3 separate regions of the Homo sapiens genome follow, and regions 1 and 2 are each linked to region 3. The links come from fine-mapping of genetic effects on gene expression. A gene starts in region 3. Each other region holds a variant in brackets. All regions are shown on one strand. Distances are between the middles of the regions. Region 1 overlaps LOC124901601 (a long non-coding RNA gene). Region 2 has its middle 34 kb from the start of PALS2. Region 3 holds the start of PALS2 (protein associated with LIN7 2, MAGUK p55 family member).

What was found. PIP is the estimated chance that this variant, and not a neighbour inherited with it, causes the effect.
Region 1: its variant is fine-mapped to the expression of PALS2 in skeletal muscle (GTEx, PIP 0.97).
Region 2: its variant is fine-mapped to the expression of PALS2 in tibial nerve (GTEx, PIP above 0.99).

Annotation. Positions count from the first base shown.
Region 1 is chr7:24,463,877-24,472,062 of GRCh38, forward strand. It overlaps LOC124901601 (a long non-coding RNA gene), which reads right to left. Exons shown (of 2, transcript XR_007060259.1): 2 at 7,407-7,713. Among named protein-coding and RNA genes, the nearest start is that of PALS2, 110 kb to the right of the region's middle. The variant T/C (reference allele first, on the strand shown) is at 3,535.
Region 2 is chr7:24,535,018-24,543,203 of GRCh38, forward strand. It overlaps the pseudogene RNU6-1103P. Among named protein-coding and RNA genes, the nearest start is that of PALS2, 34 kb to the right of the region's middle. The variant G/A (reference allele first, on the strand shown) is at 4,023.
Region 3 is chr7:24,568,484-24,576,669 of GRCh38, forward strand. It overlaps PALS2 (protein associated with LIN7 2, MAGUK p55 family member), which reads left to right and starts at 4,969. Exons shown (of 12, transcript NM_001303037.2): 1 at 4,969-5,110. RefSeq lists enhancers at 4,118-4,187, 4,208-4,307, 5,173-5,672, 5,618-5,667, 5,718-5,837 and 1 more and a silencer at 4,448-5,517.

The sequences.
Region 1 (8,186 bases), 100 kb before region 3:
GTTGTTAGTGCAGCAAAACCTAACCAATACAGATGAGCTTAAAGAAGAGCATATTCATTTCTACCTGAGGAGACAGTGCAGCCAAAAAGATTTTGAGAAGCTAATGATGCTGGTAGGGTTGGTATGGAGGTTGCATGGGTATCGTAGTAACCTGAAGCTGCAATAACAAAATACCATTGACTAGGGTGGCTTAAACCACAGAAATTTACTTCTCTCGCAGTTCTGGAGGCTGGGAAGTGATTTGGGTGCCAGGTGATTCAGTTCCTAGTGAGAGCTCTCTTTCTGGGTTGCAGACAGCCGCCTTCTTGTGTTCTTACATGGCAGAGAGAGAGAAGGCTCTCTCCTGTTTCTTCTTATAAAGGTATTAATCGCATTCATGAGGGCTCCATCCTCATGACCTAATTACCTCCCAAAGGCTCCATCTCCAAGTACCATCATACTGGGGGCTGAGATGTCAACTTATGAATGCTGGGGGGAAACCCAACTCTGTCCATAGCAGCAGGTTTTGAAGTAAGGTACAGAGATTGAGGCATCTGAATTGATCATTGTTTTAGCCTACTTTGTGCTGCTATAACAGAATACCACAGACTAGGTAATTTATAGCGAATACAAATTCATTTGACTGAAAGTTCTGGGAAGTCAAAGATTGAGGGGCCACATCTGGTGAAGGCCTTCTTGCTCTGTCATAACATAGAGAAAGGCATCACATGGGTGAGAGAGCAAGGCAGGGCAAGACAGTGTTGAATTTGCTTTTATAACAAACCCACTCCTGCCGTAACAACTCAAATCCATTTATGAGGGCAGAGCTCTTATGACCTAAACAGCTCCCAATAGGCCCCACATGACATTGTTGTATTGAGAATTAACTTTCCAAGACATGATCTTTGGGGAACACATTCAATCCACAGAAGTTATGAAGGGCCTAGTACAGCAAACTAAGGAATTTTATCATATCTTTAACACGTGACCTTTAACATCATTTTAAAAAATGGAGCAAAAGGGGCCTAATTTGCATTTCAAAAAGTTATTTAATCATAGTGTGGTTGTGTGGAGGATTCACACAGATATAAGGCCAGTACCAAAGATATTAGATGATTACAATAGTCCAGGTGAGATCCTTGAAGCTTTGCAGCCAGGCTGGCCACGTGACGTGATTCAGCAGCCCTGATTAGCACCAGAGAGGGTAAGGGGGTGATGTGAGGCATGATAAGGAGTACAATTTCAAGGACTAGAATGCTGATAAGATACAGGAAGTGAGATAAAGAGAGGAACAAAGAATCACTCCCAGATTTCTGCCTCAGATAACAGGATCGATGGCAGTGCCACTAACAAATATAAGAGAATAACAGGAAGGGGCAAAGGAAAATAAGTCATTTAGTCTTGAATATTCTGTGCTGAGGTTCCTTTGGGACACTGAGGTCCACGTGCCAACAAAGAGGTTCGAATTGGAAATTCTGCTGTGGAGTGAAGGGGATCATCCTAGGAATGTGCAGGTAAAGGGAACTAACAGGCCCTGAGAGCAACTAATAGCTGAAGCAATGAGAAGCTGAGGAAGAGAAGCCCACAGAGGAGACAGAGATGAAATGATCAGGGAAGTAGGAGAAAAGTGAAGAGATGGTAGTGTCACGGAAAAGAGTGCGAGTACTTATGTACTGAATCTTCTCTCCACTGAAACCCAAGGTGAAAAAGGGATGCCTCCAAACTGAGATGTAAAGTAGCCCCCAAAGAGAAGGGAACCCTTCACCAGCCATAGCTACTAAAAGCCACAGAGAGAAGGTGACCCATTGCCATGACAGGAAAACGCTCCCTTGGCAATCACAAGTAAAAATGAAGTGGACAACACAATGCAATAGGAAGAGCAAGCGCCCACTGCCATGACCAAAGAACCTCTGGCTCTGTTGTGGCCATATTTGTATTTAAAATGCAGTTTGGAAGTGGGGGTTTCTACATGCTAGTGACTTCCGTTTTGCACAGCACTATATGGGAAACTTGGGACTGCTGAGTAATGACTAGGAGTTGGGGTGCCATTGATTCTCAGTGTGTCAGAGGGAGCAAGCCAGCCTGAAGTCGACATCCATCAGTTCAGTTATTTAAAAAATGGATTGTAACCAAAGGGAGATTCAGTTGATTGCCACTTGCAAAACCGAATAACAAGGATGAATTGTGATAGAAAGTCAGTGACTTTATTTTTCCATAGCTAGCAGTGAAGAAACTGTCCAGTCTCCTGTCTTAACGAAACCGTATCAAATTTTCAAGCAAAATGCAAAGGAGTTAAAAAGAGGAGTTTGGGGTGAAGGGCATGCAAGACGGGCAAGGCTGTGCAGGTCTACATGACTTGTTCTGATGACTTAAGTTACTGCTCCATCTGGTGAATAGGCTGGTGCCATCTTGGGCTCAACCAGGTTATAAATTAACTGTGTCCTTGAAGCAACCTCCTGGTAGGGGAGAATTCCGTAGGCACCTGGATTGTCTCAAGATTCAGTCTTTGGAACTTCTAAGCAAACATAGAATTAGATAAGCTACCAGTGCAAGGGAGGGCCTGGTGGAAAGGAGAGTAAAGGTTATTATTTCATTACTAAGAAATTAACACAAAGGGCAACAGAAAGAAAGCTTAAAAACAGGGTACCTGGTTACAATATGACCTTGGCCAAGTTTGTTCATTCATGTGTCTATTTGTTAATAGTTTATCAGTGCTTACTTTGTGCCAGATGCTATGCCAACAGTTGGAGATACAGTAGTGAACAAGATTGATAAGTCTGCCCTCGTGGAATACTGATTTCTGGAAGGAGATGCAGGCATTAATCATGTAAATAAATAAAAAGATAATATCTACCTGTGATAGTAACATTAAGGAAGTAAACAGGCAGATGAGATAAACTGATGGCCCTCAAACTCAAGCGGCACGTATTGGAGTCATAGCAGTAGGGCTCCTTGAAACAGACTGCTGGACTCCATCCTCAGAGTTTCCGTGGGTCTGGGGTATGGCCTGAAAGTGTGCATATTTCACAAATTCTCAGGTAATGGGGATACTGCTGGTCCAGGGATCAAACCTTGAGAACCAAAGAGATAGAGAGTAACTACAGGAGGTTTTTAAAATAATAATAAATAACACTTATGTAGGCTTTATGGCATTTCAGGTGCTAGTTTAAATGACTATGTTAACCCATTTAATCCTTTTTTTTTTTTTTTTGAGGCAGAGTTTCACTCTTGTTGCCCAGGCTGGAGTGCAATGGCGTGACCTCGGCTCACGGCAACCTCTGCCTCCCGGTTTCAAGTGATTTTCCTGCCTTAGCCTCTTGAGTAGCTAGGATTACAGGCATGCACCACCAGGCCCAGCTAATTTGTGTATTTCTAGTAGAGACGGGATTTCTCCATGTTGGTCAGACTGGTCTCGAACTCCCAAACTCAGGTGATCCGCCCACCTCAGCCTCCCAAAGTGCTGGGATTACAGGCATGAGCCACCACGCCTGGCCCCCCTTTAATTCTTACAGCAATTTTGTGAAGGAGAAACTAACAGGGTGCCCATTTTAGAGA[T/C]GGGAACACAGACACAGAGCTGGTGTTAAGTCTGATGGCCTAGGCCTTTAGGCTATTGGATGGAGGTATTGCAATTCAGCCCCCAGGCAGTGGGCTGCAGGGCTTAGTTGCTCTCCTTTCCCATGATTTGCAAGTAAAGGCTGGCTTCTCTGAGCAGGCGGTGTTTGAGTTGAGACCTGCAGGCTCTGAATGAGAAACCATGTAAAGAGCTGGGGAGAGAGCATTCCCAAGCAGAGGAAACAGCAAATGCAAAGAACCAGGAGTAGAAGAGAGCTCAATGTCATTAAAGTAAAGCGACAATGTGGCTGGAGTTAGAAACGTGGTACAATAAGAGGTTGCGGTGTTAGGCAGAGGATAGGATCAGTGGACACCTGTGGGCCACATTTTGTTTGCATTTTATTTTAAAAGCAACTGGAAGTAAAAAAAAATAATGTTTTAAATTAAATGTTTCATTTTAAGAGATAAATGTAAATTCCCATGCGGTTGTCAGAAATAATACAGAGAGAATGGGTGTTCTCTTTACCCAGTTTCCCCCCAGTGGCTGCATCTTGTAAATCCATAGTGATATCACAAAGAAGATATTATCATTGATAGAGTCAAGATTCAGAACATTTCCATCACCACAAGGACTCCCCATCTTATCCTTTGATAGCCACTTTCACTTTCCAGTCACCTTCTTCCCTTCCTCCATCCTTAACTTCTGTTAACCACACATCTGTAATAGACTTTTATAATTTTGTCATTTCAAGAATGTTATATAAATTGAATTGTATAGTATAACCTTTTGGGATTTACTTTTTTCACTAAGTAATTCACTGGAGAGTCCATTGTCCACTTTGTTGTATATGTCAGTAGTTCATTCCTTTTTATTGATGAGTAATATTCCATGGTGGGATGGACCACAGTTTAACCATTCACCTGTCGAAGGACAACTGGGTTATTTCCAATTTAGGGCTATTACAAACAAAGCTTCTATAAACATGCATGTATAGGTTTTGCATGCATTATTTCTCTGGAATAAATGCACAGGAGTACAATTGATGGGTCATAAGGTAGTTGCATGTTTAGTTTTTCAAGAAACTGCCAAACTGTTTTCCAGAGTGGCTATGCCATTTTACATTCCCACCAGCAATGTATGAGTGATTCCATTTCTCTGCATCCTCACCAAAATGTGGTGTTGCTACTATTTTTGATTTTACCCATTCTGACCCATATGTGGTAATATCTCGTTATAGTTTTAATTTACATTTCCCAATGGCTAATGATGGTGAACATCTTTTCATGTGCTTATTAGCCATCTGTTTATGTTCTTCAGAGAAATGTCTCTTCATTTCTTTTGCCCATGTTCTAATTGGATTGTTCAATTTTTTATTCTTGAGTTTTGAAAGTATTTTGTAAATGCTACATTCTAATCCTTTGTCAGATATGTGGTTTACGAATACGACCCCCTACTCTGTAGCTCATCTTTTCAACTCTTCACAGGGTTTTTTGCAAAGCAAAACTTTTTAGTCTTGATAAAATACAGTTTATCAATTTTTCCTTTCATGAATTGTACATTTGGTGTCAAGTCTAAGACTCTTAGTCCAGCTCAAGGTCCTAAAGATTTTCTCCCATTTTAAAAAACGTGATAAGTTTATGTTTTACATTTAAGTCTGTGATTAATTTTGAGTTAATGTTTATATAATGGGTGAGGTTTATGGTGAGGCTTCATTTTTTTGTTTGTGAATGTCCAACTGCTTCAGCATCATTTCTTGGAAAACTTATCGTTCCTCTGATGAACTGTTTTGCACCTTTGTCAAAAATCAGTTGGGCATATTTGTATGAGTCTATTGCTGGGTTTTCTGTTGTGTTCTATTGATCTATATGTCTATCCCTTCACCAGTACCTCATAGTCTTGATTACGTAATAGGTCAAAACTGGGTAGATTGTTTCCTCTTCCTTAACTTTTTTGAAATATTTTAGCTATACTACTTCCTTATTTTATATAAATTGTATAACAATCTTGACTATATCCACAAAAAAATCCTATTGGAATTTTAGTAGAAATTGTGTTAAACCTGTATATCAATTTGGGGAGCATTGACATCTGTAATATGTTGAGTCTTCCAATCCATGAACACTGTATATCTCTTCATTTTTTTAAATTTCTTTCATCAGTGTTTTGTAGTTTTCATCATACCAGTACTATTCATGTTTTTATAGATTTACATCTAAGTATTTCGTTTTTGTTCTTGAATAATTATAAATAATGTTAGTATTTTTATTTCAGTCTTCAGGGTTTCATTGATAATATATGAAATACAATCAATTTTTGGATGTTTATCTTGTATTTTGCTGAACTTACTCATTAGCCCTAAGAATTTTTTTTTTTTTTTTGGTGAATTCTTGGGGATTTTCTAAGTGGGTTATTATGTCATCTTCAAATAGGGATAGTTTTATTTGTTTCTTTCCAAACTGTATGTCTTTTATTTTTTTTTCTTGCCTTATTGTACCAGTTAGGACATCCAGCACTATGCTGAATAAGACTAGTAAGAGTAAACAGTCTTGCTTAAGTCCTGATAAAACGGAGAAAACATTCAGTCTTTCACTATTGAATTTAACATTGGCTATAGATTTTTTTGTAGGTGCTCTTTACAATGTTGACAAAGTTCTCCCTATTCCATTTTCTGAGAGTTTTTTTATCATGAATTATTGAATTTTGTCAAATGTTTTTTCTACCATGATTGATATGATCATGAAATTTTACTTCTTTAGCCTGATAATATGGTGGCTTCCATTGGCTTATTATCAAATATTAAATCAACTTTGTTTCCTGTAATAAGCCTCACATTGTCATGGTATATAATTTATTTTATACGTTGCTGAATTCTATTTGCTAATAGTTTATTAAGGATTCTTGTGTCTATACTCATAAGGAATATTGGTCTGTAATTTTCCTTTTTTGTGCTGTTTTTGTCGAGTTTTGATATCAGGGCAATACTAGCTTTTAAAAAAATGAATAGAGAAGTTTTTCTTTCTTTCTATTTTCTGAAAGAGATTGTGTAGAACTGGTTGTTAACTCTTCTTTAAACATATGGTAGAATTCTCTGATGAAACCATCTGGGCCTGAAGATGTTCTGGGGAATTTTTAAATTACAAATTTGATTTCCTTAGTAGTTATAAAACTATTCAATCTACTTCATGTTGGGTAAGTTGTGGTCGTTTTTGGTTTTCCAGGAATTGGTTTATTTTGTCTACATTTTCAGGTATATGTGTGTAGAGTTACTCATAGTATTCCTTTATTATTCTTTTGACATGTTCAGGGTCAATAAAGATAGCCTGTTTCCTGCCTAATGTTGGTAATTTGTGTCTTTTCTTTTTGTCTTTGTCAGTTTTGCAAGATGTTTCTCAATTTTATTGATCTTTTCAAAGAGCCAGTTCTCTGTTTCACTGATTTTTTACTATTTTCTGTTTTCAATTTTATTGATTTGTATTCTAATCTTCTCATTTTATTCCTTCTGCTTGTTTTTGGCTTATTTTGCAATTTTTTTTAGGTTCTTGAGATAGGAGCTTAGATTATGGATTTAAGAGTTTTCCTTTTTTTAATGTACACATTTAGTGTTACAAATTTCCCTCTCATTGCTGCATTAGCTGTGTCCCACAAATTTTGATACATTGTAATTTGACTTACATTTAGTTAGTTTTCTTTATTTCCCTTGAGACTTCCTGTTTGACCCATAGATTATTTAGAAGTGTATTGTTAATTTCTATGTGTTTAGAGATTTTCCTCCTGTAAGTGTATTGTTAATTTCTATGTGTTTAGAGATTTTCCTCCTATCTTTTTTATAGATTTCTATTTTTATTTCAATGTAGTTGAAAAACACACTGTATCCTTTTCGTTCTTTTAAATTCATTAAGGTTTGTTTTACGGCCCAAGATACAGTCTATTTCACATATATTCTATGGACACTGCTATTATTGGGTGAAGCGTTCCATAAATGTTGATTCCATCCTGGTGCTCAGCAGTGTTGAGTTTTCCATGTCCTTGCTGATTTCTGTCTGGGTATTCTGCTAATGGTTGAGAAAGGAGTATCAAAGTTTTCAACCATGACTGTGGGTTTGTCTGTTCCTCCTTTCAGTCCTATCAATTTTTGCTTCACATATTTTGCAGTTTTTGCTTCACATATTTTGCAGCTCCACCTATTGAAGGAAATAGTGTCAAAGTATTATGGGCAAGTTTTTTTTTTTTTAACTTTTATTTTAGGCTTGTGGGTGGACATGTGTTAAAACCACATGATATAAAGCAAATCCCTTCACTTATACCAAAGGACATCACTCTAACAAGTGTCCCCTTTCTCCTACATCATCCATTTTTACATCTCTACTTGATCATTCTCATCATTTAACAAACTTGTCATTTTCCCAGCTTTTAAAAGAAACTCCCCCAGATACACTCAAATATTTTTCTCGCCTTTGCAGTAAAACTCTTCAAAGGAACTGCCATTAGTGTCTTCCCACTCTCTCTTAAACCCATTCCAATCAGGCTTTCATTACAATTGGTGAAAACTCTTCTTGTCAGGTCACCAATGACCCAATGCTGCTAAACCCAATGATCAATTCTGAGTCCTCATATTATTCGATAATCAGTAGCAGTGATCACTCTCTCTTCCTTA
Region 2 (8,186 bases), 33 kb before region 3:
TGCCTTAAGGCTGAGTGTATGGTCAATTTTAGAGTATATGCCAGGTGCAGATGAGAAGAATGTACAGTCTGTTGTTGGGTGGAGTGTGCTGAAGATATCTGCTAGGTCTATCTGGTCAAGTGTTGGGATTAAGTCCCAAATATCTTTGTTAGTTTTCTGCCTTGATGATCTGTCTAATACTGTGAGTGGGATGTTGAAGTCTCCCTCTATTATTTCGTGGTTATCTAAGTCTCTCCACCGGTCTCTAAGAACTTGTTTTATGAACCTGGGTGCTCCAGTGTTGGGTGCATATATATTTAGGATGGTTAAGACTTCTAATTGAATTGAACCTTTTATCATTATGTAATGCCCTTCTTTGTCCTTTTTGATTGATGTTGGTTTAAACTCTGTTTTGTCTGATATAAGAATAGCAACCCCTGCTCTTTGTTGTTTTCCATTTGCTTGTCTATGATTTGTATTGTATTCAAGATGTATTAAGAAAAAGCAGTTTGCAAAATACAAAACATTTCTGTGGGAAATTAAAGTGTGATACCATTAGAGGAGAAAGATAGATGGATGGTTATACAGATTGATAGATGATTAGCTAGCTACCTAGAAGATTAGATAGATAGATAGATAGATAGATAGATAGATAGATAGATAGACAGACAGATAGATAGATAGATATAGATAGATGGATGATAGGAGAGAGAGAGTCAGATAGATAGATATGAATATGCATAGCAAATATCTGGAAAAATTTGGTGTTCTACTGTGACATTTCACTTATCATTATGTAATATTATATTTTTCACTATAAACTCATTTGCACTCATCCCATGCTTCCTGTGCTCAGGCCGATAGTCCCCAAAATACCAAGCCCCTTTAGGAACTCTGACACTTGTATTTTTTTCTCCCTTCCTCTTCCTCCTTCATCTCACAAACTCCTTTTTTTCTAGGAAAGTTTCCAGTTCAGTGATACTTCCTCAGTGATGCTGCCTTCAGGGCTCATGTTCTGTTTTCATTATCTGTTAGCACTTTCCACGTGTTATTGTCAGATTGATAGATAGGTATGTAGATTTTTTTTTTTAACACGCATACTTTCCTCACTAAAAGGTAAGCTTCTCCAAATGGGAAAATCATGACTTGAAGTCTTTGTAGGTCAGAATCTAAAGCCATGCCAGGTACCTAATGAATACCTCCTAAATGTTTGCTATTGAAAAAATAAGTGACCTTTTTAAATATGAAAGTCTAACCTCCTAGAATTAAGGAATTAGCATCACACCTAATCTATTTATAAATCTGGAGTTTCTTTTTAAATAAATGCCCATTGAAAACAAAAACCTGCAGGGCAGGAAGATATTGAGGCCCTGTATGATTAAAATAAGGTTGCAAGCTAAATGGATGCTTTGAAATGTGAATACCTTGAGTAGATGATCAGTCTTAGTCATGACTTTAAAGAATTATTCTGCATTAAACCTTAAAAATCATTTTCCATTTCAACTAATTTTCCAACTTTTCTTTATATGAGGAAAAGATACAAATGACTGGATTTTATTGGCATTTTTCAGTTCTAATTATATATCTTATTTTAAAAAGAAGCAAATGATCACAGCGTTGGTTAAAGGTCATATATTCTGTGATCTTTTTTTAATATTAGGACTTCTATTCTTGTCTTGTTCTTTTACTGTAGTTCAGATATGAAAAAAGGGTAAGTAAGGAAAGAAGCAAAATCTGATTGACAGCAAACGCTAATGGTAACCAACTCTTCCCAAAGAGACTACAGTGGAGTGTGAATAATGATATAAATCATAATAGAAAGCAAAAATCAGTTTGTTTCCACATATAGCATGTGCTGCATGATTTTATGAATGCAGGAGGCATATGGATGATTGATGGATATCGTGTTGTATGGATAAAAGTGGTGTGTCTCAGAGTCACTTCTGCTTTTAGTGAATGACAATGGAGCTTTTGTAATACTAATAATGTTGAAACCTGGTGAATGCAATGATACAGATAAATGACAATATATTCCTAAAATTTCCATGGACAGTTGTGAGTTCAAATATTTTATTCTATTGTCCCATGAATCTATTTTTATGCCATATGCCCCAAGATTTCTTTCTAAAAACATTTACTACTGGAATTGCAGTCTGTTAGGAAGAATATTGTTTTGTTTGGGAAGATAAGATTAGATCTGTCTATTAAGTCTTCAAAATAAGCTGTAAATGAATTTTTCTGTAATAAAGACTTACTTCCATCGACAAAATGGGCCATCTACAAATGATTGTTGCTCCTTATCAAGATGGATAGATAAAGAGATATAGATAGATATGTGCTCGCTTCGGCAGCACATATAGTAAAATTGGAACTATACAGAAAAGATTAGCATGGCCCCTGCACAAGGATGACACACAGATTTGTGAAGCATTGCATATTTTTCAAAACAGCATGGTACTGGTACCAAAACAGAGATATAGACCAATGGAACAGAACAGAGGCCCTCAGAAATAATACCACACATCTACAACCATCTGATCTTTGACAAACCTGACAAAAACAAGAAATGGGGAAAGGATTCCCTATTTAATAAATGGTGCTGGGAAAACTGGCTAGTCATATGTAGAAAGCTGAAACTGGATCCCTTCCTTATACCTTTTACAAAAATTAATTCAAGATGGATTAAAGACTTAAATGTTAGACCTAAAACCATAAAAACCCTAGAAGAAACCTAGGCAATACCATTCAGGACACAGGCATGGGCAAGGACTTCATGACTAAAACACCAAAAGCAATGGCAACAAAAGCCAAAGTTGACAAATGAGATCTAATTAAACTAAAGAGCTTCTGCACAGCAAAAGAAACTACCATCAGAGTGAACAGGCAACCTACAGAATGGGAGAAAATTTTTACAATCTACTCATCTGACAAAGGGCTAATATCCAGAATCTACAAAGAACTTAAACAAATTTACAAGAAAAAATCAAACAATCCCATCAAGAAGTGGGCAAAGGATATGAACAGACATTTCTCAAAAGAAGACATTTATGCAGCCAGCAGACACATGAAAAAATGCTCATTATCACTGGCCATCAGAGAAATGCAAATCAAAACCACAATGAGATCCCATCTCACACCAGTTAGAATGGTGATCATTAAAAAGTCAGGAAACAACAGGTGCTGGAAAGGATGTGGAGAAATAGGAACACTTTTACACTGTTGGTGGGACTGTAAACTAGTTCAACCATTGTGGAAGACAGTGTGGTGTTTCCTCAAGGATCTAGAACTAGAAATACCACTTGACCCAGCCATCCCATTACTGGGTATATACCCAAAGGATTATAAATCATGCTGCTATAAAGACACATGTACATGTATGTTTATTGTGGCACTATCCACAATAGCAAAGACTTGGAACCAGCCCAAATGTCCATCAATGATAGACTGGATTAAGAAAATGTGGCACATAAACACCATGGAATACTATGCAGCCATAAAAAATGATGAGTTCATGTCCTTTGTAGGGACATGGATGAAGCTGGAAACCATCATTCTGAGCAAACTATCACAAGGACAGCAAACCAAACACCACATGTTCTCACTCATAGGTGGGAATTGAACAATGAGAACACTTGGACACAGGGTGGGGAACATCGCACACCACGACCTGTCGTGGGGTGGGGGTAGGGGGTAGGGATGGGGGTAGCTAGGGATAGCATTAGGAGATATACCTAATGTAAATGACGAGTTAATGGGTGCAGCAAACCAACATGGCACATGTATACATATGTAACAAACCTGCACGTTGTGCACATGTACCCTAGAACTTCAAGTATAATAAAAAAATTTTTTTAAAAGATATGGATAGATAGATAGGTAGAAACATATAAAGATCTCAGTACTTAGTACCAGTCCTTACACAAAATAGAATGCCAATAAATACTTGTTGAGCTAATTAAAGACTGGAATTAAGAAAAAATGTATTTAGGCCACTCAGAGAAATTAGTCATCTCTTTTTCTAATACTAACCTAATTTTACATTT[G/A]CCTAGGGTTGGTCATTCTTGGGAATGTTGTCACACATTCTCTAGGACTTAGCACTGGGGTCCTGTTCAACTTCTTTAGAAGTCAACAGAGAAGCCCCAGAATTTTCAGCATACCAACACCCACAAACTCTGCCATCCACTGCCCACCCTACTCACTGAGCCTCAGAAAATTTATTTGGTACTCCATTTGTTTGCTTTTGTGACATTTGTCCTAGAAACTTAAAAAGTATCTTTGTTCATGTTTTTATTGAATTTCAAATTTCAAATGTTTGGAATGAGGAAAAATATCACTGAAAAACAAACTCTCTATGCTTTGTCCCTGAATGATCCAGTGATTAAATAGGATCAGTTGAATATGGCATTTTACTTGTCATTTCTAATAAAGAAGTTGTAAGCTTCATCTGAGTTTTCAAAATTAAGAAAATTTTGAAGTGAAAACATGTAATTGAACTTCTTTTTAAAAAATATTTCTGTTATGACATGCATATTTGAAAAGTTTTTCACAAAACAGCCCCGGGGATCTCTTTAAATATCTGATTACTGCGCTCCACACTTAAAACTTTCAATGGTTTCCCACTGACCCTACAACAAGATCTGAACTTCTCACCCCAGCCTTTAAGGCCTTGCCTGTCCCATCCACATCTAATTCACCAGTCTTATCTCATACCCTTTCTCCTCAATCCTCACACTCAGCTGCATGAGCTTCTTTCTGCTAGATTTCCCTCTGCTGGGACCTTCTCCCATGCTCTTCCCCAGCCTGCCATACTCTTCTCTATAGGCACTGCCATCTTGACCACACCTGTAACCACCTTCACACCTTTACCTGGGTTTCAGCATAAAATTTACCTCCTCACATTAATGCTTTGGTTTCCACAGGTTAGCAGTTCCCACAGCATCTAACATTTTTCCTTCACAATTATTTCTATAATGTCTGTCGTCCACGCTGAGTTGGATATTCTCTGATAACCTTGGCACTAGTGTATCTTTAGCTCAAGCACCATATGGTACATAACAATGAGTGACATGATATTGTTGAATATGAAATATTAGAAATTACCAGGGTTCAAATGTAATACATTCATTTTTAATCTAGATCTAAATGATGGACAAACGCTAAATGTTTTCTACTGCCCAAAATTCCATGCCTAGAGTGATACTGGACTGGAAACGGCTGAAGGCCTTCAGCTGTGAAGAAAACAAGCCAGAATAAAATTCTTCTTTTTCAAATATTTTATCCATTGTCCTCCTGCTGAGAACCATGGCTTTTTAGGTGGTTTTTTTTTTTAGGTTTATTATGAGTTTAGGCACCTTAAATATTTCAACATTTTAGGGACGAAAGAGAGAAGCAGGGAAGTAAGACACCTCAAAGAGAATGTTGAATCTGACTCACTTTTAACTGGAGACCTTTAGCTGAGGTCTGTTGGGGAACACTAGCCACTGGTCTCTGTCGGAGATAGCTTGACTCATAGCTCCTACAGAGACGCATGAAGCTACCCATCAACATGCGAACTCCTAGGGTAGAAAGAGTCAGGAACTTTTGGTCTTTATATCCAAGTGCCTGCACAGCAAGCACGCTGGAAATGTTTGGGGTACATTTTTACTATATTTACTGTATATCAGTTTTTTCAATATAAAAAGTATGTATATACATGTGTATATACTTTATGTAAGTAGTAAAGCATATATAGCATACACATATATTTATGTAAGTATGCGTACCTTATATAACTAGTAGCTTTGAAATATAATTCACATACAATTCATTCATTTAATGTGTTCAATTCAAAGGTTATTAGCATATTAACAGAGTTGTGCAACCCTAACCACAATCACTTTTTTTTTTTTTTTTTTTTTTTTTTGAGACAGAGTCTCACTCTGTTGCCCAGGCTGGAGAGCAGTGGCACGATCTCTGCTCACTGCAGCCTCAACCTCCTGGGCTCAAGTGATCCTCATAACTCAGCCCCCTAAGTGGCTGGGACTACAGGTGTGTACCATCATACCCGGCTAATTTTTGTATTTTTTTGTAGAGACAGCGTTTTGCCATGTTGCCCAGGCTGGTCTCAAACTTCTGGGCTGAAGCCAACCACCTGTCTCAGCCTCCCAAAGTGCTAGGATTACAAAGACGAGCCTTCGCGCCCAGCCACAATCAATTTTAGAACATTTTCATCACCCTATAAAGAAATTCCGTACAGATTACTGGTCACTTTCCATTAACCTCCAATCCCCCAGTGCTAGCCAATTATTAATCGACTTTCTGTCTCTATAGATTTGTCTTTTCTGGACATTTTGTATCAATGGAATAATATAATATGTGGGGTGGAGTTTTTTTGGCGACTGGCTTCTTTTTTTATCTTAATATTTCAAGATTTATCCATGTGGTAGCATCTCTCAGTACTTTTTTTTATAACAAAATAATGCTACATTATGTTTATCTATTCATCAGTTTACAGATGTTTAGATTGTCCCACTCGTTAGCTATTATGAATAATGTTGCTATGAACATTCATATACAACTTCTTGTGTGGATATATTCCTTAATGTCTTGGATATATACCTAGGAGTAGAACTGCTGAATGATACAGTGATTCTATGCTTAATCATTCCTAACAGCAGTGAATCAGGGTTCCAAATTTTCTGGATCCTCAGCACCACTTGTTACTTCCTATGTAATCATCCTAGACAATGTGAAGTGGTATATCATTGTGATTTTGGTTACTTTTTTTCCTGATGGCTAATGATATTGGGCATCCTTTGATGTGCCTACTGAACATTTATATATCTTCTTTGGAGAAATGTCTATTAAGATTCATTGCTTTTTTTTAAGTAGGGTAATCTTTCTACTACTGACATGTATGTATTCTGGATACAAGTTCCTTATCAGCTATATCATTTACAAGTATTTTCACTCATTCTTTTCCCTTTCTTGGTGGTATTCTTTGAAATGCAAAAGTTTTTGTTTTTGGTTTTGGTTTTTTTGAGACAGGGTCTCACTCTGTCATCCAGGCTGGAGTACAGTGGTACAAGCACGGCTCACTACAGCCCCAAACTCCCAGGCTTAAGTGATCCTCCCACCACAGCCTCTCAAGTAGTTGGAACTATGGACACACATCACCATGCCTGGCTAATTTTTTATTTTTATTTTTGTAGAGATGAATTTTTGTCTCACTATGCTGCCCAAGTTGGTCTCAAACTCCTGGGCTCAAGTGATCCTTGCACTGGGATTACAGGTGTGACCCACCATGTCTGATTAAGTTTTTTAAATTTGAAGAAGTCCAGCTTATCTACTTTTTCTTTTGTCACTTGTGCTTTTAGCAGTATCATATCTAAGAAAACTTTGCCTGACCCAACGTCACAAAGTTTTACCCCTAGATTTTATTCTAAGAGTTTTATAGTTTTACCTTTGAATTTACTTATTTGACCCATTTGAGTTAATTTTTGTGTATGGTGTAAGGAAGGGGTACAATTTTATTATTTTATATGTGGATATTCAGTTTTTCCAGTATCCTTTGTTGAAAAGTTTGTTTTTCTCATTGAGTTGTCTTGGCATTTTGTTGAAAATGAACTGTCCATAAATGTGAGATTTATTTCTGGTCTCTCAATTCTAGTCTATTGGTCTATGTCTTTCCTTATGCCAGTACCAAAGTGTCTTGATTACTGTAGCTTTATAGCATGTTTTGAAATCAGGAATTATGAGTCTTTCTATTTTATTCTCCTCTTTCAAGATTGTTTTGGCTATTTTGAGTCCCTTGCATTTGCGTGTGAATTTTAGGATCAGCTTGTCAATTTCTGCAAGAAGTTTCTCCAGGATTTTAAGAGGAGTTATATTTAATCTGTAGATCAGTTAGGGAATATTTCTATCTTAACAACATTAAGTCTTCTGGTCTGTGAACACGAAATGCCTTTCTATTTATTTAGACCTTCTTTAATTGCTTTCAACAATGTTTTATAGTTTTCAAGATGTAAGTTGTATACTTCTTTTATTAAGTTTATTTCTAAGTATTTTATTCTTTTTGATGCTGTTGTAAAGGGGATAAATGAATCTCCTAAGCAAATTAGCAAATATTTATATTATATAATATAATTTGGATGACAGTAGGAATATGGAGCTCTTTCCTTGGGCATTAGAAATTATATTGTATTATTTAGGCAGTAGTGTACCTTGCC
Region 3 (8,186 bases):
AAGATACAAGATATGACTAACTAGAATATCCAAACAGGGAAGCTTTGACTGTCATTGTGAATGACCTTGTAAATGGGGTCCCGTAGGCAGTAAGGAGACAGGGATAAAATGACTGGCACCTGGCAGTCAGGGCAAGGAGGCCCTGAGGCAGGGAGATGAGTTAGGAGACTCTGTAGGACTAAAGCAAATAAACAAGAGAATCCATTCCTATAATTTTGAGAAAGTGGGCTGCAAGGGATTTGAGTATGTGTTTGTTCAGGAGATGGTAAAAGGAGGTAAAGGAAAGGAAGGTGCCAGAAAAACCAGCAGGAGCAACCCCGTGAATAGCTTATCTAGATGGAAATTTTCAACAGCGAGTTGAAAATATGCCTCAAGGGAGAATAGATACAGATGTGGAAGCATTGGTGCTAGAGTCCTAAGGATCCCTGGGATTCTCAAGATAAACAGTACTATCTGCTCTTTTTAAGTTTCTCCTCAAAAATTTATTTCATTCTTAGTGGAACATTTTTCTTTAGGAAGTAGGAGGAGATAACACAGCAAAGTAAGGGTCAGAGATGGAACAGTCAGAGAGGTCGAAAGAGCTCCCAGGTGGTATGGTATCAGAGAAGTTAAAGGAAAAGAGAGGTTTAGAGAGTGAGAGTACGAGAGATTAACCTCCTCAAACACTGCAGAGAAGTTCAATGGCATGAACACTAAGCAAAGACCTTCCCCACTAATTCTGTCATATACTATTAAGACACCTGGCATAGCACTTATTATGTAATATTTTGCTTATTATTCTTCGCCATTAGGTAGGGACTACTTGATATTGTTAATTTTTTTATTTTCATTATGCTTCACTAGTAAATGAGTGACTGAATGGATGAACACATGAATGAAAATGTTAATTGTGATGGAAATAGTAGTTTCAGCAGAGAAGTGGGTGTGGAAGCCCAATTCCAATGCCTAAAATAAACAAATAATGGTAAGAAAAGTCAAGGAGATATGCTGAGATATATAGTTTTCTTTTTTAAGGAAAAACCAAACAACCCCAAAACTCAAGTTCTTATAATGTTTGGCTTTAATTGTGATGATTAAAAAAAAAAAAAGAACTGCCATCGTATCAGGAAATGTTTTTTCAGACAGCTAGTTTAGAGGAGAAAGTTCTGCTAAGACATTTCTGTTTGAGACAGTTGACCCAGTGGGACTTTTGGAAAGATTTAGATTATAAGAAAAGCCTCTGACAAATATCTATGAAAGCAAGATTAAAACAATAATGTACACAATCAACTGAGGTCCAGCGGTTTGTAAACCAGTGCCAGTCGGGATGCTCAGAGCTGGGAACGGTGATCTTCAGGCAGCCAGGTGAGACTAATCTGGAGAAGCTTTAGGAAGGAGATAAATTTAAGCTGTTTTGAAAGGGGACTATTCTAGTCAATTGGCAAAGAGTCTTAAAGCACAGGATTAGGAATTTTAATTTGATTACTCGAGGTAATTTGGAGCTACCCCACTGTTGTGAAGATTTGGTATAAATGTTGTTTGGAAGATGATTCATTTCCATAGTTCTTAACTCTGGCTGCGTATTAGAGTTATCTGGAGAGCTCTGAAAAAATCCTGGCACCCAGGCTGTGCTCCAGAGCAATTAAGTCTGGGATGGCATCAAAGCATCAGTGCTTTGTTTTGTTTCTTAAAGTTCTCTGGGTGATTTCAATAAAGAGCCAAAAATTAAGAAGCACTGCTCTGAGTATAGGATAAATTGCAAGGAAGCAAGAGAGAGGCTAGAATTAGAAAGGTTAGCAAGGAGGCTGGAAATTGGAATCTGACCTAGCTTTGTGAGCAGAGATAAAAGGAGTGAAGCTAAATAAAGTATTCTGAAGGAAAACTTGGTTGGACTTTGTGATGCATGCCAGTTGCATTTTTAAATAAAGCTATCCTCCAGGAGTGTCACTGCTTTTACTATGATGGATTAGTTGAAAAACAAGTACACAGGATTTGCTTTTGCTAAAATTCGGGGCTATTAGCAAAATTCTCAATTTCTGTAGGAGCAAAGCAGGTCAGAAGAGAAAAGAAAATGTAATCACATTAAAAGTGTATGTTGTTTACATTTGAAGGAGGAAACAAAATTGAGTGATGGATGCTCCTGAATTAAGAATCAAAATTCAAATTTTAAATTGAATTACCGTTGGGAGATACTGGGCTGTGGTAAAATTATGATCCCTTTAGAGTAACCTTGAAGGAAATGAAAAGTCAGACTATTAAGGACACTGAAGAGAAAGATCCACCATCATTCTCAATCATATCATTCCCCTTTCTTGGAATGAAGAATTTGTAACCGGTATGGGAAATGGATGGTGGTGTCTCAGTATGATGACCTCTCAGAAAGCTGAGTTGGGAACCAATGATGGGAGTTCCAATGTTTAACTGAGAACACTTTAAATTTATCCTGGCATGTCCCACCTTTAAAGTTTAGAGGAAGGGCAGAATGTTATAAAATGGGAATATCATTTATAAAAGGAAATAGTGTTTCCTTTTATAACTGTATATGAGTATTTGATACAATACTCATCTGACACTGAGAGAGGAACTTCACCGGCAAGAGCTTTCTGAAGGGGAGCAATCAAAGACAGTTATTGGAGCAAAATCATTTTTCTGACTCTAAGAATGAAGCTGAGTCTTACGGCAGTGATAAGCCTCCATCTGATAGCTGCTGTCATTACTTAGAGCACAGACTTGGAACTGCAAATGAAAGATAATTGTTCCTGTATTCCTGCTCCCAAATGCTGGGTCTCTGGTAGATGCAGAGATAAAGCAGTTGGCCAGGAGTGGTGCCAGCTTTAAGTCAGGTAGGTCTGCATGTAATTTGAGGGGCAGAGCCTACCCCAAACCCTCCCTCCCTAAAACTTCCTCAGTTAACATCATTCTACTTGCAGGGAGCAGGGGTAGAGTAGGTTAGGACATTGTTTCCAGAAGACCCTTGAGGAAATAAAAGTGCACTATTAAGGATCACTAACATATCTGGAAATGACATTCATACCCTACCTCCCACCCCAACCCCAGAGAAGCTCAGGGCAAGTAACTAAGTGGCTGGGTCCAAGGGGATGTGTTAAGGTTAAGAGTCAGAAGGGAAAAGAGTTCACAAGCCTGGGTAGGGTACAGCAGGGAGGACCCATGGGTGTCCTGTGAGAAGCAAGTGGGCCTGGGGCAGCAAGAAGGACCTGAAAGGTCTTGCTGACACCCCGAGAAGACAAACCCCATCCTTCCGCTTTGTCTCTGCCTTGGGCTCCGAGCCCACTCCACTTCATTTCATCCAGCCATCCTGACTACAGGGGGCCCAAAGCTACTCTGTGCCCTGGGCACGTTTGAGTCTCCTTAAATGCTTCCAATTACCTTTGCCTGGGTTTGTGGTTCCAGGAAAGAAGGTTCTAAATTAACACTGTACAAGGCCCCCCTGCATGTTGGTTTGCAAAATTAATGATCCTAATGGAAAAGTAAATTAATCTTTGATGCTTGGTTGAGGATAAACACAAAAATCACTGTTTTGGACACTGGACCTTCTTAATACATCTCATCAATAGTATTTTCTCTCTCCCTTCCATGCCTGCCACATTCACAAAGAGAGGAGACAATACAACTTATAACTTCATCTCTGAATCCAAAGGGCCATGATGCACGCATTTATTCTGCAAACACTTATTAATGGTCTGGTTTGTGCAAGGTGCCCAAGAGAAGCCAGGAAAGGCTGCACAGAGGAGGCCACCTCATAACACTCCTCACACGTAAAGTTTGACTTGCACTTTCTACGTTCATGGTTTGAAAAGATTGCAGTAAGCATTTTGTAAAATGTAAATTACATTCTTCAATTTTAGGAAGAACACAATAGTTTTTCCAAAAGCCGCCTGTCACAGGTCTGAGGGTTCACAGAGCTCTTTTAAGGGGATCGGAAGTTCTCTGGCTGCCTTGCTATGTTTTTCTAGCCAGAAGTCTCTGCTGCAGTGCATTGCTCAGTTCCTTTCAACTGAAAAATTAAATCTGCACTTCTGTCAAAATGTGTCATCTACACATCCGGACACTCATCACAGTTCACCAAGCTCTACGCAGAGTCCAGGCTGAAAGGATGGCATGCCCTCCCCAACCCCACCCTTTTGAGGTCTGGGAAGCCCAGGTGCTGGGGAGGAGCTGAACAACTGTGTCCAGGGAGTGTCTGGCAAAGCCGACCCAGGGAGTTCCACGGGAGCCTCGGTGCTATGAAAAGAGCCAGTGTCCATGCATTTCCTCGGGTGTGAATCACACTGCCCGGTCGGGCCTTTGGGAAAAAATTAATGAAGGACACAGTCAGCGCCGTAGAACCTGCCAAATACACATCAGATCCAGTGGAGTCTGTGAAGGGGGAGGGGGAGATTTTTCCAGAGGCTTTTCTTCTCGTTCCATTTCTCTTTTGTGCCCCACGACTGGGTTCTTGAATGTAAAACTCTCAGAAAGGTCAGGGCGGAGCCTGTTTTATGCCCCGAGGAGTATCTTGCCCACCCGTAAATGCTGACAGACAGCTGCGACTTCGGCCCAGGAGACCCGGCGGGGACTGGGTCCGACCAGCCCTCTCTCGCGGGCGCAGGTCCGGGACCCCTGAAGCGAGCCGGCCGGGCGCAGAGCGCAGTCAGTCTGGGCGCTCAGAAGCTGGGAGGGGGCTCCACCTGGGCGCCCAGCCGCGGCGGGAGGGGCGGGGCCCGGCTTTCCGGAGGCGGTGGCACCTCCTCGCGCCCGAGCGCGCGCTCCCCGACGTCCGGCGCACGCGCGAGGCCGGCTGGGAGCGCGCCCAAGCGGCGGCGGCGGCGGCGGCTGGAGGAGGAGGAGGAGGAGGAGGAGGAGGAGGAGGGCGGCTGAGGCGCGGCTGGCTGCGCGCGCGGAGGCAGCGGCGGGGGCGACCGGAGCTGGGGCAGAGTGGGGAGCGAGGGAGGGGGAGGAGAGAGAGGGAGGCGGAGGGCAGTGAGAGACGCATTTCCAGTTCTCAACTACGAGCCACGAGTTTGCAGATGGGGCTGCTCGGCGGCGCCTGTGGCTGAGGGAGAGCAGCGGCGGCGGGGAGCGACCGGGAGCGGCGGCAGCGGCGGCGCGGAGGCGGCTGAGGTGCGAGCCGGTGAGTTAACTGGACCCCCACGCCGCTCGGGTAACGGTCGCGCCGCGCGCCGGGCCGGCCGGGGGCGCCCTGTTGCTCGGCGCGGCGCGCCACGCGGGGACCCTGGCCCGCCCCGCCCCCCTCGGCACCTGGGCTTCGGCGGGCGCGGGGAAGAGGGACCGGCAGGCGGCGGCGGCGGCGCCGCGGTCGGGGAGGCTGCTGGCCGCCCCCAGCCCGGCCCGCGCGGAAGGGGCGCTCGGCCGGGCTCCTGCCTCTCTGGCTGCGGGCGGCTGGGCGGGCCGGAGCTCGGCAACGTGTCTGGCCCATGCTGCTTGCCGCCGCTCCCCACGCGCTCCCCGGCGCGGCCCCGACTGGGGCTAGGGCCGCAGACGCGCGGGGCCCCTTCGGGCGCGGGGCTTGGGTGCCTACACCTCTGCGGCGGGAGTCGCGGTGGAGCCTGAATGGAGAGCCGGCCTGGGGGCGGCGTTGCTGTGACTGACACCTCCGGGGTCTGTCCCGAGAGGGGGTGATTCCGCCGGCTCCCGGTTCTCTCCCGAGCTCGGAGTTGGTAGGGGAGGAGGCTTTCTCCAACTACCGCCGCTACTTCCGAGGTACGAGACTCCAGTTGTTTGGCCAAAGTGGCTGTGGGCCGAGCACAGGCTGCCGCGGGGGCGTTCGCTGCTGAGATCGTGCTCGCGGATTCTCGGTACGTTTGTCTGAAACCAAATAGGTGCTGGGGCTTTTTTATTTTGGCTGGGTGGAGGGTCAGCAGGGGAGTCGATTGAGGTATCCGACCGTGTGGTGACAGGATGTGGATTGGTTGGTAGATGTTTTTTTGCAGAAGGACTTTTTAACACTTTACTGGGAGTTTATTCTCAATCCTACCAGTTTCTGGGATTGCAGCTCGAGATTACATTTGTTAAACTTCCATCAGTTGGGTGTGCATCTGTGTAGGGGGTGGGGGTGAAGCGAGGGAGAGAATTGAAGACTGCCGGGGAAGCTCAGAAAATTCTCCGCATTACTTATAAACAGCCGGGTAAGGTCAGGCTAGCCACGTTTTATTCTTTCCTACGCCTTTGGAGAGTGTTGGAATTTTACTTTGTGCTTCAAGTATATTACAAGTGGTCTTGTAGTGTAGCTGAGAACGTTTGGGGTGCGTTAAAATGCGTTTCAATTGGAGTATGATTTAGCAGCCATTTCTTCCCGTGAAATTTTGCAAATCATTTGTAAACTTATGTTGGTCGAATATACCAGGCGAAGTAACATTTTTAGTAATGCGGTATATAGTTTCCGTATATAGGTATAGCAACGGACCTCAAGTAATATTGCTTATTGTAGGCATCTACTGTGCAATGATAGGGTAGTGGGTAGTAGGCCTGATTATAGTTATGTCTTCTGAGGCCTTGTTAACAGTAAACAAAGAACTTTTGTGGGTTGTGTCATTTTGAGGTCATTTGTACCTTAAATCTATCATATATTTAAATAGGTGTTTAAATGCGTGTTTGCACGATGTGTTACTCTTTAAGGTCCATGTTTCCTTCATTCTGGACTACGGTTACATAATACACAAATGGTAACACTTTTAATTGCTCAATTTTGTCCTATGGAGACTGCACACCATCTTTATGAAAGAGGTGTGTATGTGTCCTTACTGATGCCACCGAATTCTTGACATCTGGAATGTCAAAATGAATTATTTTGCATTCTAGGTTAAATCAACACTGGAAAAATTAAGGTGTTTAAGCAAGTCTAGTAGCTCTATATAAGACAGAATCTTTTTTTTTCTTTAGGCCAACTGTTGGATTTTTAAAAATGAATCATATTTTTAAACATTTGAGGGAGCAGTTTGCTTCTGAGTCTCATTTTAGGCTGAAATTGTTCCAGAGCACTACATAGCCTGCTTCTCTCTTTCTCTCCCCACTCCCCCTCTTTTTAGCTTGAGATAACCAAGAAGACATAACTGTGACTCTATGTGTTATCTTTTTAAAAAGTTGTTTTAAAATTGAAGTTGCTTGTTTGAATATTTACTATCCCTTTACATGCTTTACTACTTAATAATGGATTAGCAGAATAAAACAGATATTTTAATTAAATGTCTTTCATATTTTTGACATCTGAGCTTTGTAAAAATGGAGTAGCATCATATTATTGCTGAGAGAGTTACAAATAATACAGGATTAGTGCTAGTCAAAGGCTAATTGTAAAAAAACAGCCAGAAAATAAAATTAAAAGAGGTAAGAGGACGCATTTATACTTTTGACATCACTCTAATATAAATTACCTATTGCTAGGTGACTTTTGAAAAAGAGTATCTTGTAAAATTCACATTAGGTATATAATAGTTAATAATTTTTCCTTCCAGAGTGATTCACTTGATGAGTGACTAGATTTTTTTTTTTTAAATCAGAACTCTACTTCAGGTAAGTATAGTTAACCATGTAAGTGATGTGCTGATGTTTATTTCAGGAAGAATGAACACTTACCCATTTGATAAATACTGAACTGTTTGGGAATATGTCAGTTATTCCTTAAAACTTAGGCGGAGAAAAATTATGCTAGTTTTGTTTTAACTGTAGGTTCTTTAGAAAAGTAGTCTTCACATTTATAAATATAAGAGCAGATAAGCACAAGAGATCTCTTTCCTGATATGGTGCTAGTATTGAATTAAAGATTTTATTTTTTTGTTGTAGGGACCAGTTTTGTTTAGTCTTCCTGTTCAGTCTCACAGAAGCTGCAATGATTTTCCTCCTTTTCTGTTACTTGTATCTGACCACTGGGGGGAGACTTTACAATTGGGCTTGACCATATTCCTTCTTTACATACATTGGCTGCTAATCCTGGGCACTTTGTCAAACTGCTGGGTAGTGTGCTGAGGAGGATGCACTCTGAAGCAAGTCTCAATCAAGGTGTTTAATGACTTTTCTTTCTTTAACTCACAGCATGCTTACAAAGTATCATTCTTTATAGACTGTGTTATTAACAGTCTACTGTTAAGTGGTCTAAGTATGCCTCTAACATAATGAAAGATAAGATTCCTGAATACATTATAGCTTTCAAAGATCCGACTTTACTTGCATTAATCTTAGAAGCAGTGTAG